4 separate regions of the Homo sapiens genome follow, and regions 2, 3 and 4 are each linked to region 1. Evidence: fine-mapped expression QTL. A gene starts in region 1. Each other region holds a variant in brackets. All regions are shown on one strand. Distances are between the middles of the regions.

Region 1 (2,654 bases):
GAGTGAGACCCTGTCCCCCCTCCAAAAAAAAATTGTGAGCCCAGGTGTAAATGAAGCCCCCCTCCCCAGCACCCTCCTCTACATACCAAGCTTTTCTCCTAGAAAAGATGCACTGGGAAAAAGCTATCTTGAGTAAAGATCAAAACTGATATAAGCCATCCCTCATATACCAATAATATGCCATCAATAAGCGTGAGACATGTGGATGGCTAGGAGAGAGTCTGGTTTCTTCCTGATGCTGCCCACCCAAAACAGAGACTGCAGTTAGGCTCTGACCACACGAGCGCCTGGCATCTCTAGGCAACCTTTTCCATACCAAGCTTAGTTATTCCGGGCAAAATGCAAAAAAAAAACATAAGTAGGAACCTATCATGAAGTGTCCTGGATATTCTTAAATTAAATTTAACCAGATTCTCAAAACATTTCATAACTAACGTCTGCTTTCTTCATTTAATTCTCCAAACATTATAATTTACATTGGTAGAAGAAAGTCCCACTTTACCTGCGGTGAAAAAGGTCGAAATGTCTATCTAGCATGAGATGAAAAACACTACCAGAGAGCAGGGTAGGATTTCACCTCGGCTATTCTCGCTCTAAGTCCAAAACTCCCACATCCTCTCCGCATCCCTCCACCCCGACAGAGTGGCCACAGGGCGTAGAGCGGAGGCTGATACCGCTCAGAGCAGACCGAAGGGAAAAGACGTCTCCCACCGCGCTCATGCCCAACCGGGCTCTCTGGAAAAGGGTCCCGGGGAGCGCGAGGAAAGAAACGAAGGCCGGAAGGAGGCAGAGCGGTCTAAGCAAATAAAAACCCCGGACTTCCACGGCGGCCGGAGCTGGAGGCCTGTGACAGCGGCTCCTCCTCTCAGAGCTTTCCCGGCTTCAGGAGGAGCTGGGGGGCGCCAGCTTCCCGGTGCCTGCGACGCACAGCCCGGCTGGAGCGAGAGCGCAGGGCAGCGGCCCCTCGGGACGAGCTCGCTCGCCTCCCCCGGAAAGGGAGGCTGTGGCCGAGACGGACGGCGGCCTCCAGCTCGGGCGGGGGAGGGCGGCTCGAGGCCTCCGGACCGGGCGCTGAGGTGGCGCACCGGCGCGGGAATGGCCCCAGCCAGCCCCGCCAGGCGATCGCTGAGTCCGTCACTCGTCTGCCCGCGTCCCCGCTTACCTGCTACCCTCGTTCCTGGCAGCTGCCCCGCCGCCGGCCCCGTCGCGGCAGCAGCCTGGACCGCGGACCCCGCCTTCGTCAGCTCCAAGGGAAGCCCCGCCAGCGACGAGGCGTCCGGCCTGTTCGCCGCGGCCACAGCCGCCGAGCTTCCTCTGAAGCGGCTGCCGCGACGCCGGCGCTGGCCTATCGCGTCACCTCCTCCGCGCCCTTCCGCCTGCGAGGCTGGGCCTGGCACCGCCCGCTTCCGGCGCTCCCGCCCCGCCTCCCGACCCGGGGCCGCCCCGCCCCCGCCCGTCACCGCGTCCTTAGCCCCGGCCTCCCTCAGAACGCGCTGGGATGGGAACCGCGTTCAGGAGCTGCTAAGCGCGTTTGAGACTTCAGCCCCTTCTCCAGCTTTTAACCTAAAAGGGCTAAATCAGACCGCAGCTAGTGTACACCCCTACCCTCCGCTGATCCCGTCACCCCTGCGCCGAAAGCAAAAGACCCATTCCAGCTCTGGACGTTGTGAGGCCTGGCCCAGGCGTCCGCTCTCTGGTTTTCCTATTGATCTTACCCCTGGTATTGTGATTGGCCTCTTTATCTATGTCTTACCCGCCCCAACTGTGAATGCTTTCCAAAATTATAAGCCGATGTCCTGACAGGCAAAAACATAATAATAGCAGATTTATGGCGGAAGATGAGTTCAGTTTTGAACATACTCGATCTGGAAGAATAAAGTGGAGGTGACTGCAATGGAAAACCAACAGTGCGTTGCTGAGAGCCTGTGTAGGCAGTAAGGATATGCATTGATGGTGGAGAAGATAAAAACAATACCGAAGCCAACTGCAGGATGGTTTGCTTTTAATTATCATCATGTGTCAGAAAATTCTAAACAATGTTAATGAAAAAGTACTCCTTTCCAAACAAAAGCTTTGTTTAGTCTTAGTTCTAAGCAATGGCTGCAATTACTGTTGATTTTTTTTTCTTTTTTCTTTTCTTTTTTTTTTTTTTCCAAACAGGGTCTTGCTGTCTCGCCCAAGCCGGAGTGCCGTGGCACACCCTAGGCTCGCTGTAACCTCTGCCTCCTGGGCTCAAGCGATCCTCCCACCTCATCTTCCAGGGTACCTGCGACCACAGGCTCCTGCACCACGCCCGGCTAATTTTTTATTACTATTACTATCATTATTTTTGTAGCGATGACATCTCCCTATGTTGCCCAGGCTGGTCTTGAACCCCTGAGCTCAAGTGATCCTCCCACCTGGGCCTCCCACAGTGCTCGAATTACAGGCGTGAACCACCACACCAGGCCCTCTCACTTCTTTTTAACAGTTTCTCTTTGTCAGTGATTTTTTTTTTTTTTTTAGAGGAGTGTCGCTCTGTCGCCCAGGCTGCAGTGCAGTGGCGCCATCTCGGCTCACTGCAAGCTCTGCCTCCCGGGTTCACGCCATTCTCCTGCCTCAGCCTCCTGAGTAGCTGGGACTACAGGCGTCCACCACCACGCTTGGCTAATTTT
Region 2 (2,654 bases), 71 kb before region 1:
CATACAATGACTATTGTCCTGTGGACTTTTTTTTTTTGAGATAGAGTTTCACTCTTGTTGTCCAGGCTCAAGTGCAGTGGTGCAATCTCAGCTCCCTGCAACCTCCACCTCCCAGGTTCAAGCGATTCTCCTGCTTCAGCCTCCCGAGTAGCTGGGATTACAGGCGCCCGCTGCTACCATGCCCAGCTAATTTTTGTATTTTTAGTAGAGACAGGGTTTCATTCACTATGTTAGCCAGGCTGGTCTCAAACTCTTGACCTCAGGCGATCCACTCGCCTCAGCCTCCCAAAGTGCTGGGATTACAGGCATGAGCCACCGCGCCTGACCCCGATGAGCCATTTTGGACCCAGGGCTTTGTCTGTCAGGTGTGTTGGATGAAGCCCAGTTATATGCTTAAGTCTCTGGCTTCATCCTGTCATCCCAATTTGGAAGCCCATTAAGAAAGTGAGCTCTGTTTTGTTTTTAGTGATCACTACATTTTCCCCTAAACTCAGAGAAAGATCTATGAGCACGTAAAGCATCAAGGTTGTGGCTTTCAACAGTCTCTAGGGGGTTATTAAAGAGGAACTCTCTCTCTCTCTGAAAACCCACTTATTTTTCACTACGAAGGATAAAAGGGCCCTTTGTCATATATTGGGTCAAGGTCCAGAGTCTACACTTGGGTTTAAAGGATGCACTGCTGAGGATATGGTGTGTGCAGGGAAAAGGGAAGCCGCTTGCGTGGCAGTCGGGCGTAGAAGTGACTTTGTTGTATGTGGTATAACTTTTGAGCCCTGTCTCTACTAAGAGTCTGGACTTCGCATAAGTGCTTCACAGAAGGTCGACATCCCCCTTTTTGGGCAAGGGATTTCTGGTAGGCTGGGATGAGAGAAGTTGATTTCCAAACCAGAATTAATGAATGTCTCTACCGTACTTAGAAATACTATTTAAGCAAGGCTCTGAAGTTGCTTAACTTTTGTCTCTATTTGAAATTCTAGGGTGACAATGAAGAACAAGAAAAATTACTGAAGAAAAGCTGTACGTTATATGTTGGAAATCTTTCTTTTTACACAACTGAAGAACAAATCTATGAACTCTTCAGCAAAAGTGGTGACATAAAGAAAATCATTATGGGTCTGGATAAAATGAAGAAAACAGCATGTGGATTCTGTTTTGTGGAGTATCCTTCCCATGGATCTAATGTAGCTGCTGAACCAGGGTAGAGCTGAGAGTGGTAGCTCATAAGCGTCCCTGCACTCGTCCCTACGTTTTCCTTCATCTCCCTCCTACTTTCCACCCAGTGTGTCTCTGCCCTTATACTGTAAAGCTGATACTATTTATATTCTCTTCTGAAATCCATGCTTTATGGTTCTTTAACAAAAAGTTTTTCAAGAATGTTTGCCCTTCACGTAAAAAAAAAAAAATTCCAAAGAATGTAGTGAAAATATAAAAATCTCGTACTGTTCTAAACCCCTAATGCCCTTTGCCAGAGGCAGTCAGTTA[C/G]CAGTTTCTTGGGCGTCTTTCAAGAAGTAACCCTGTGGGTGTGCGGTAGTGTATTTCATGTGCTGTTTTTAAAATCATTTTTTTATTTTTTATTGTTCCATTTCAGCATATGTAGGTCTTTTTTTAAAATAGCTGTACAGCTGGGCATGGTGGCTGGTGTTTGTAGTGCCAGCTGCTCAGGAAGCTGAGGCAGGAGGATCAGTTGAGCCCAAGATTTCAAGGCTGCACTGAGTTGTGACTGTGTTCCAGCGGGGGTGACGGGTTAAGACCCCATCTTTAAAGAAAAAAACTTTTAAGTAAATAGCTGTATAGTATTTCATTATATAGATGTATATAACCTGACTGTATAGGTACAAACCAAAACTATTTACTTTGATCATTTAATTCCCTTACTCAGACTCTTTTAAGTATTGGACCTCTTGGATTTATCCTATGTTCTTTTTACTGTATGTTTTGGTCATTCAATTTAATATTCTGAGAAATTTTGCAGGCCCAATTTAATATATCTTTTGAATTTTTTCCTGTGCCCTGAATTATGTTTGTTTCGGTTGAAATTTTTCCTTAAGTGTCTGGTGATCCCTGGATTTCTGCTCATAATTAAGGAAAAGAATGCTGACTCACTGGACCCAGGCAGGGCTTCTCTCCCAGATTGCAGGCTTGCCTCGGGGATACACAGGTTTCCCAAATGCTAGAATGAAAAGAGATTTTATTTTGGCTTGCTAACATCAAAGATACTAGTTTCTCCAGATGGTTTATTCAGAACACTGTTGTCTTATTTTTATTTGTCTGAGATTAAATGTCTTCCCCTTTAATTAAAGGGAGGTCTCTGATGAAGTAGGTTTGGGAACTGCTACCTTGGTGACAGCTTGAGTCTTTCCTTTAGTGAAGTGCAGCACAATTCCACGTGCACGGTGACCTTCTCTTGATTAGGGTGCCTTGGAATGTACAGAACCTAACTTGAATATACAGCACTGGTTTCTTGGATAAGAAGTGTACAGTGATCTAAACTTGCAAACCAAAATACAGAGATGATGGGACCAAAAATTATCAACAGGAATGTCCAAGAAATATGATCAGTGTAGCCATGGATACGTGTCATATTTGACTCTATGTGCTTCCAAACCAATCGCAAACAGGCCTGGGCAAGCTGAATTACTGTCTTTGAACTCCAT
Region 3 (2,500 bases), 31 kb before region 1:
TTTGATGTCTGGCCCGATAGTTTGTTATTTCCCTATTGATAAATGGTTTTCTGAAAGAGAAAGATTTTGAAACAAAAGGTAAAAAAAACATGAGTACTTCTCAATTTACTGCTAAATATCTTTTCTTCTGTAAATCAAGAGAAAAGTCATATATGCCAAAAATTTTATTTTCAAGGGCTTAACTTTAGCATCATTTATATACCTATTAGAAAAGTCTTCATTAAAGACATCTTTTAATCTTCCAAGGACTTCTTTTTCACTGAGTGGAACCAAACTGCCATACTTCTTCATAACCTCATCTAGGAATCCTTAAATAAAGGAAGAAAGAAAAGTTAAGATGGAAAAACAAGCCATTTTCAGTAGAGTCATTCTCCAAACACTTAACCTATACACAGCACTTAACACATACAGTGGTTAACCTATATTACTATATAATATTGATACTATATTTTTAAAGTTATGTCTTTTGTAAAAAATAAAATATATTAGGCTCTAACCAATGCAATCTAGAGAGACATACTGTGAGGAATCATTTCACATTAGATTTTTAAGTTACTGAAGCATTGTTAGAGAAGGAATGGATAGCTAGAAGGAAATACTAACAGCTTCCCACAGCTTAACCTTCTCTTAAAGCGTGACTTCTAAAGGGCTTAATCACATAGTCAAATGTGCCTATCCTTTTGGTAACTGAAAGAATTATTATTTTAAAATCACAATTAGCATTAACTGATGAGATCACTGTGACTCTATTATTTGGTAAAGGTATGTACTTTAGTATCAGCAAGGGACAATATCATACATCTTGATAAGTTATTATACTCATGACACCAAATAACGCTGTGAGGTGAGCTCAACTGGATAACAGCTAGTGAGGCACTTTTTTTTTTTTTTTTTTGAGATGGCGTCTCGCTCTGTTGCCCAGGCTGGAGTGCAGTGGCACGATCTCTGCTCACTACAAGCTCCACCTCCCGGGTTCACGCCATTCTCCTGCCTCATCCTCCC[A/G]AATAGCTGTGACTACAGGCGCCTGCCACCACGCCCGGCTAATTTTTTTGTATTTTTAGTAGAGACGAATGGAATCATCATCAAATGGAATCTAATGGAATCATTGAACGGAATTGAATGGAATCGTCATCGAATGAATTGAATGCAATCATCGAATGGTCTCGAATGGAATCATCTTCCAATGGAATGGAATGGAATCATCGCATAGAATCGAATGGAACTATCATCGAGGGGTTTCACCGTGTTAGCCAGGGTGGTCTTGATCTCCTGACCTTGTGATCCGCCCGCCTCGGCCTCAGAAAGTGCTGGGATTACAGGCGTGAGCCACCACACCCAGCTAGTGAAGCACATTTTAAGACAGTAAATAGAATTTTTTGGAGATGGGGTCTCTTTCTATCATCCCAGCTGGGGCATAGTAACACAATCATAGCTCACTACAGCCTCAAACTCCTGGGCTCAAGCCATCCTCCTGCTTGGATAGTTAGCTGGGACTATAGGCAAGTGAAACCACACCCAGCTAATTTTTTAATTTTTTTTTTTTAAGATGAGGGTCTTGCTATGTTGCTCAGGCTGGTCTTGAACTTCTGGCCTCAAGTGATCCTTTCGCTCCAGCCTCCCAAGATGAGAAATAAAATTTAAAGGTGGCTTTTTGGCCACACCATAGGACAGTCTTCAGGTAAATGTAAGTAACATGTATATGTGCTTATATATATCCCTGAATGATCCACTGAACCTAGAAAAGCCCCAGGAAATAAACCCAGGACGTTCTTTCTTTTCTTTTTTCTTTTTTTTTAAGACAAAGCCTTGCTCTTTTCACCCAGGCTGGAGTGCAATGGTGCGATTTCGGCTCACTGCAACCCACCCCTCCTGGGTTCAAGTGATTCTCCTACCTCAGCCTCGTGAGTAGCTGGGATTACAGGCGCCCGCCACCACGCCCAGCTAATTTTTGTATTTTTTTTTTTTGTAGAGACGGGGTTTCACCATGTTGGCCAGGCTGGTCTCGAACTCCTGACCTCAGGTGATCCACCTGCCTTGTCTTCCCAAAGTACTGAGATTACAGGTGTGAGCCACCGCGCCTGGCCACCCAGGACATTATTTCTAAGTAAATACAAAAAAGCTGAGGCAAGGCTTAGACGCTCACAGAAGTACAGACATGACTTAGGTTGTTCACCAATGCTGAATGGGCAGAGCAACAAATTAGCTAACCATCAGTCTGACGGTTAAGTCTGCTGAGTTAAGACAGGAAAAATGAGGATTGTTAGCCACATATCTTAACCAGCTCCCTTTGTAACTCCAAGAATGGCCTCTGCCATGCATTGATATAAACAGGATAGAAAAGATGATAAGAGTGTCTTGGGAATGAAGTGTTTTGTCTTTTATGAGGGGAGAGACAGACAAAGAAGTGAACAATTTATTTTTCCTCCTGTTAATCTCCCACCAGAGTACCTCTCAATTTTCAAGGCTTAACATAGGAGCAAAGGTCAGGGTACAGTAAACA
Region 4 (2,654 bases), 65 kb before region 1:
GTTAGGTCTGTTACTGTTCTGTTCCAACTATAAATCCAGGATGACTGTTACTCAGATTCAGTGCTATGTAGAAAATAGAATGCACAGCCAAAAACATAATTTGGGGATGACTGGCAGCACCTTTTTTTCCCTTTCTTAAGAGGCTAACTGAAAGTTGATTAGGATTCTTGAGAGAACGTAACTAAAAGTTGAATCAAATCTATATTCACTGCTATAGATTTAATAAAAGGAAAGACCACTGTAAAGATGCAACTACAACCTGATGCGTCTGCTGAGGAGAGGACTGGGCAGCTTGTTGAAGGCTCGTCAAAAGTAGCGCTTAGTTATCACAAGGCCTGCACTCAACCTCAAAAGCGTAAGGTTTAGGCCAGGCACGGTAGCTCATGCCTGTAATCCCAGCACTTTGTGAGGCAGAGGCGGGTGGATCACCTGAGGTCAGGAGTTCCGAGACCAGCCTGACCAACATGGCAAAACCCTGTCTCTACTAAAAATACAAAAATTAGCTGGGAGTGGTGGCGCACACCTGTAGTCCCAGCTATTGGGGAAGCTGAGGCAGGAGAATCACTTGAACCTGGGAGGCAGGGGTTGCAGTGAGCCGAGATCACATCACTGCACTCCAGCCTGGGCAACAGAGCAAGACTCCGTCTCAAAAAAAAAAAGCATAAGGTCTGCCTACCTCATGGGCACCCAAACAGTTCAGTGCCAAACTAGTACCAGTAAAGCCATGCCTGCCTCTTTCACCAACAGTCCAGAGTATATTTCAAAAATATCTTTATTAACCAAGGAAGCAATTACTGCAAACATCAGGACAAAGGACATTCTAATCTAGGACTTGAGTTAAATAGAGGTTTACACCTAATCACAAGAAGAGAGGGAAAGCAATTACGTGTGCTGAAACCAAGTTTCATCAATGACAAATATTTTAAAATGACTTTTAAAATACTTAACATTGGCCAGGCACGGTGGCTCCCGCCTGTAATCCCAGCACTTTGGGAGGCCCAGGCGGGCAGATCACTTGAGGTCAGGAGTTCAAGACCAGCCTGGCCAACATGGTGAAATCCTGTCTCTACTAAAAGTACAAAAATCGGTGGGGCGTGGTGGCACACACCTGTAATCCCAGCTACTTGGGAGGCTGAGGCAGGAGAATCGCTTGAACCTGGGAGGTGGAGGTTGCAGTGAGGCAAGATTGCGCCATTGCACTCCAGCCTGAGGGACAGTGAGACTCTGACTCAAAAAAAAAAAAAAA[C/A]AAAAAACCCAAACTCAACATTTAGTCTAAGCCACACTGGGCAGCACACCTCAAGGTGCCCTATGAAGCATGAGACTGGAAGTGGAAGAGTCACTGGATTTGGGCAGCTCTCTCTCGGCGTTGATTTTCTTACAGGAACAATTCTGTCTCTTCTGCATGCCAGGTTCTGTCACTGAGGAACTGAAACACTTCCTCACTCTGAAGTACAAGACATTTTGAACTGACAGCCCAGTGACTGGCTACTTTGGTATACCACACCCCCACAAAAAAAAAAAAAAAAAAAAAAAAAAAATCAGAGGCAAATTTCTGGCATGTTTTGAAAAATCTCATGTTTGCATAATTATGTTTGAAAAACTCATTATGAGATCTTCCTTACCCTAAACTGTCATTTTTTCCTAACGCTGACAGAACCCCACCTATAGCAGCATAAAGTGCCTCTACTCTCAGTCTTTTTAACGACTTGAAACACAGTAAGAAACACTGACCTGGTTTGACATTAAGGATTTTGGGTCTGGAGGACTCAGGAGAGGAAAGTGCTGGGGCTGCTTCCCAGTGTCACCACTGGTGTTGGGAACCCTGCATGTAAACATGGTCGGACTCAATCCTCAACTGCTGGCAGTCAGCCTTCTCAACCATACCTCAGGGCCAAGTGAAACTAAACATTTTAGCTTTTTCAACACTCCAAACCTACGCGGGCATAAACTCGAGAATCTTCTGCCATTTACTTTGTTTTTCTATTCAGACTTCTGAGTTTCTCATACATACATTGGTTGGTTTTCCTCCCAATTCAGAAAGGGTAACTGGGTAGGTTTCACATGTATCTTTCCAACATGTCACGAAAGGCTGGATTAAAGATGTGAGACGCGTGATATTCATCCTAATGCAGCTAAGTGTATGGACAAGGGCCACTTGGCCTTTCTTCAGAAGATGAGGTTCAACAGAAGGAGAAGAACAGCTGTGCTAGTGTCAGCACTGGCCATGCAGAAGCCAGACGTACCCTGCATGTTACTGAGGTCACTAATGGGACAGGAGAAAGAACCTGACACGGTTGCTGCGCTCCCATGGGACTAAGTTGTCTCTATTACCTTCCCTCTTCTCTCCAGCCACCTGCAAAACATCTCAAGTCAGTCAGCCTTCAGTTTTGAATGTTTACGTTTCAGATACCCTTGAAATAGAAATGCATTTGGTAAACCTTAACTTCTTCCAATTGGGAGGCAACACAGGGAAATGACAACTTAAAAATTACTCTGAGAACAGCTGCATTCTCATTTGTTTGACCACTAGTTTGATGGATGTTAAGATTTTTTTAACAGGTCGAAAACAGAAAAATTCAGGGAATTCAATATCCCAGCAAAAGCCTTTATGAGATGTATGCCACGTATTATAATTCCTAAAACCACGATTGAAA

What was found.
Region 2: its variant is fine-mapped to the expression of SENP5 in blood mononuclear cells (TOPMed, PIP 0.98).
Region 3: its variant is fine-mapped to the expression of SENP5 in fibroblasts (GTEx, PIP above 0.99). The same link has a PIP of 0.9 or more in blood mononuclear cells, lung and whole blood.
Region 4: its variant is fine-mapped to the expression of SENP5 in monocytes after R848 (Quach 2016, PIP 0.95).

The regions. Positions count from the first base shown.
Region 1 is chr3:196,866,582-196,869,235 of GRCh38, reverse strand. SENP5 (SUMO specific peptidase 5) reads right to left here and starts at 1,316. Exons shown (of 10, transcript NM_152699.5): 1 at 1,163-1,316. RefSeq lists an enhancer at 1-308 and a silencer at 960-1,539.
Region 2 is chr3:196,937,756-196,940,409 of GRCh38, reverse strand. It overlaps NCBP2 (nuclear cap binding protein subunit 2), which reads left to right. Exons shown (of 4, transcript NM_007362.5): 2 at 978-1,159. It overlaps NCBP2-AS1 (NCBP2 antisense RNA 1), which reads right to left and starts at 533. Exons shown (of 3, transcript NR_046630.1): 1 at 283-533. The variant C/G (reference allele first, on the strand shown) is at 1,483.
Region 3 is chr3:196,897,474-196,899,973 of GRCh38, reverse strand. SENP5 (SUMO specific peptidase 5) reads right to left here. Exons shown (of 10, transcript NM_152699.5): 3 at 203-308; 4 at 1-50. Among named protein-coding and RNA genes, the nearest start is that of SENP5, 31 kb to the right of the region's middle. RefSeq lists an enhancer at 879-1,386. The variant A/G (reference allele first, on the strand shown) is at 1,003.
Region 4 is chr3:196,931,613-196,934,266 of GRCh38, reverse strand. SENP5 (SUMO specific peptidase 5) reads right to left here. Exons shown (of 10, transcript NM_152699.5): 10 at 1-2,654. Among named protein-coding and RNA genes, the nearest start is that of NCBP2-AS1, 6.9 kb to the left of the region's middle. The variant C/A (reference allele first, on the strand shown) is at 1,247.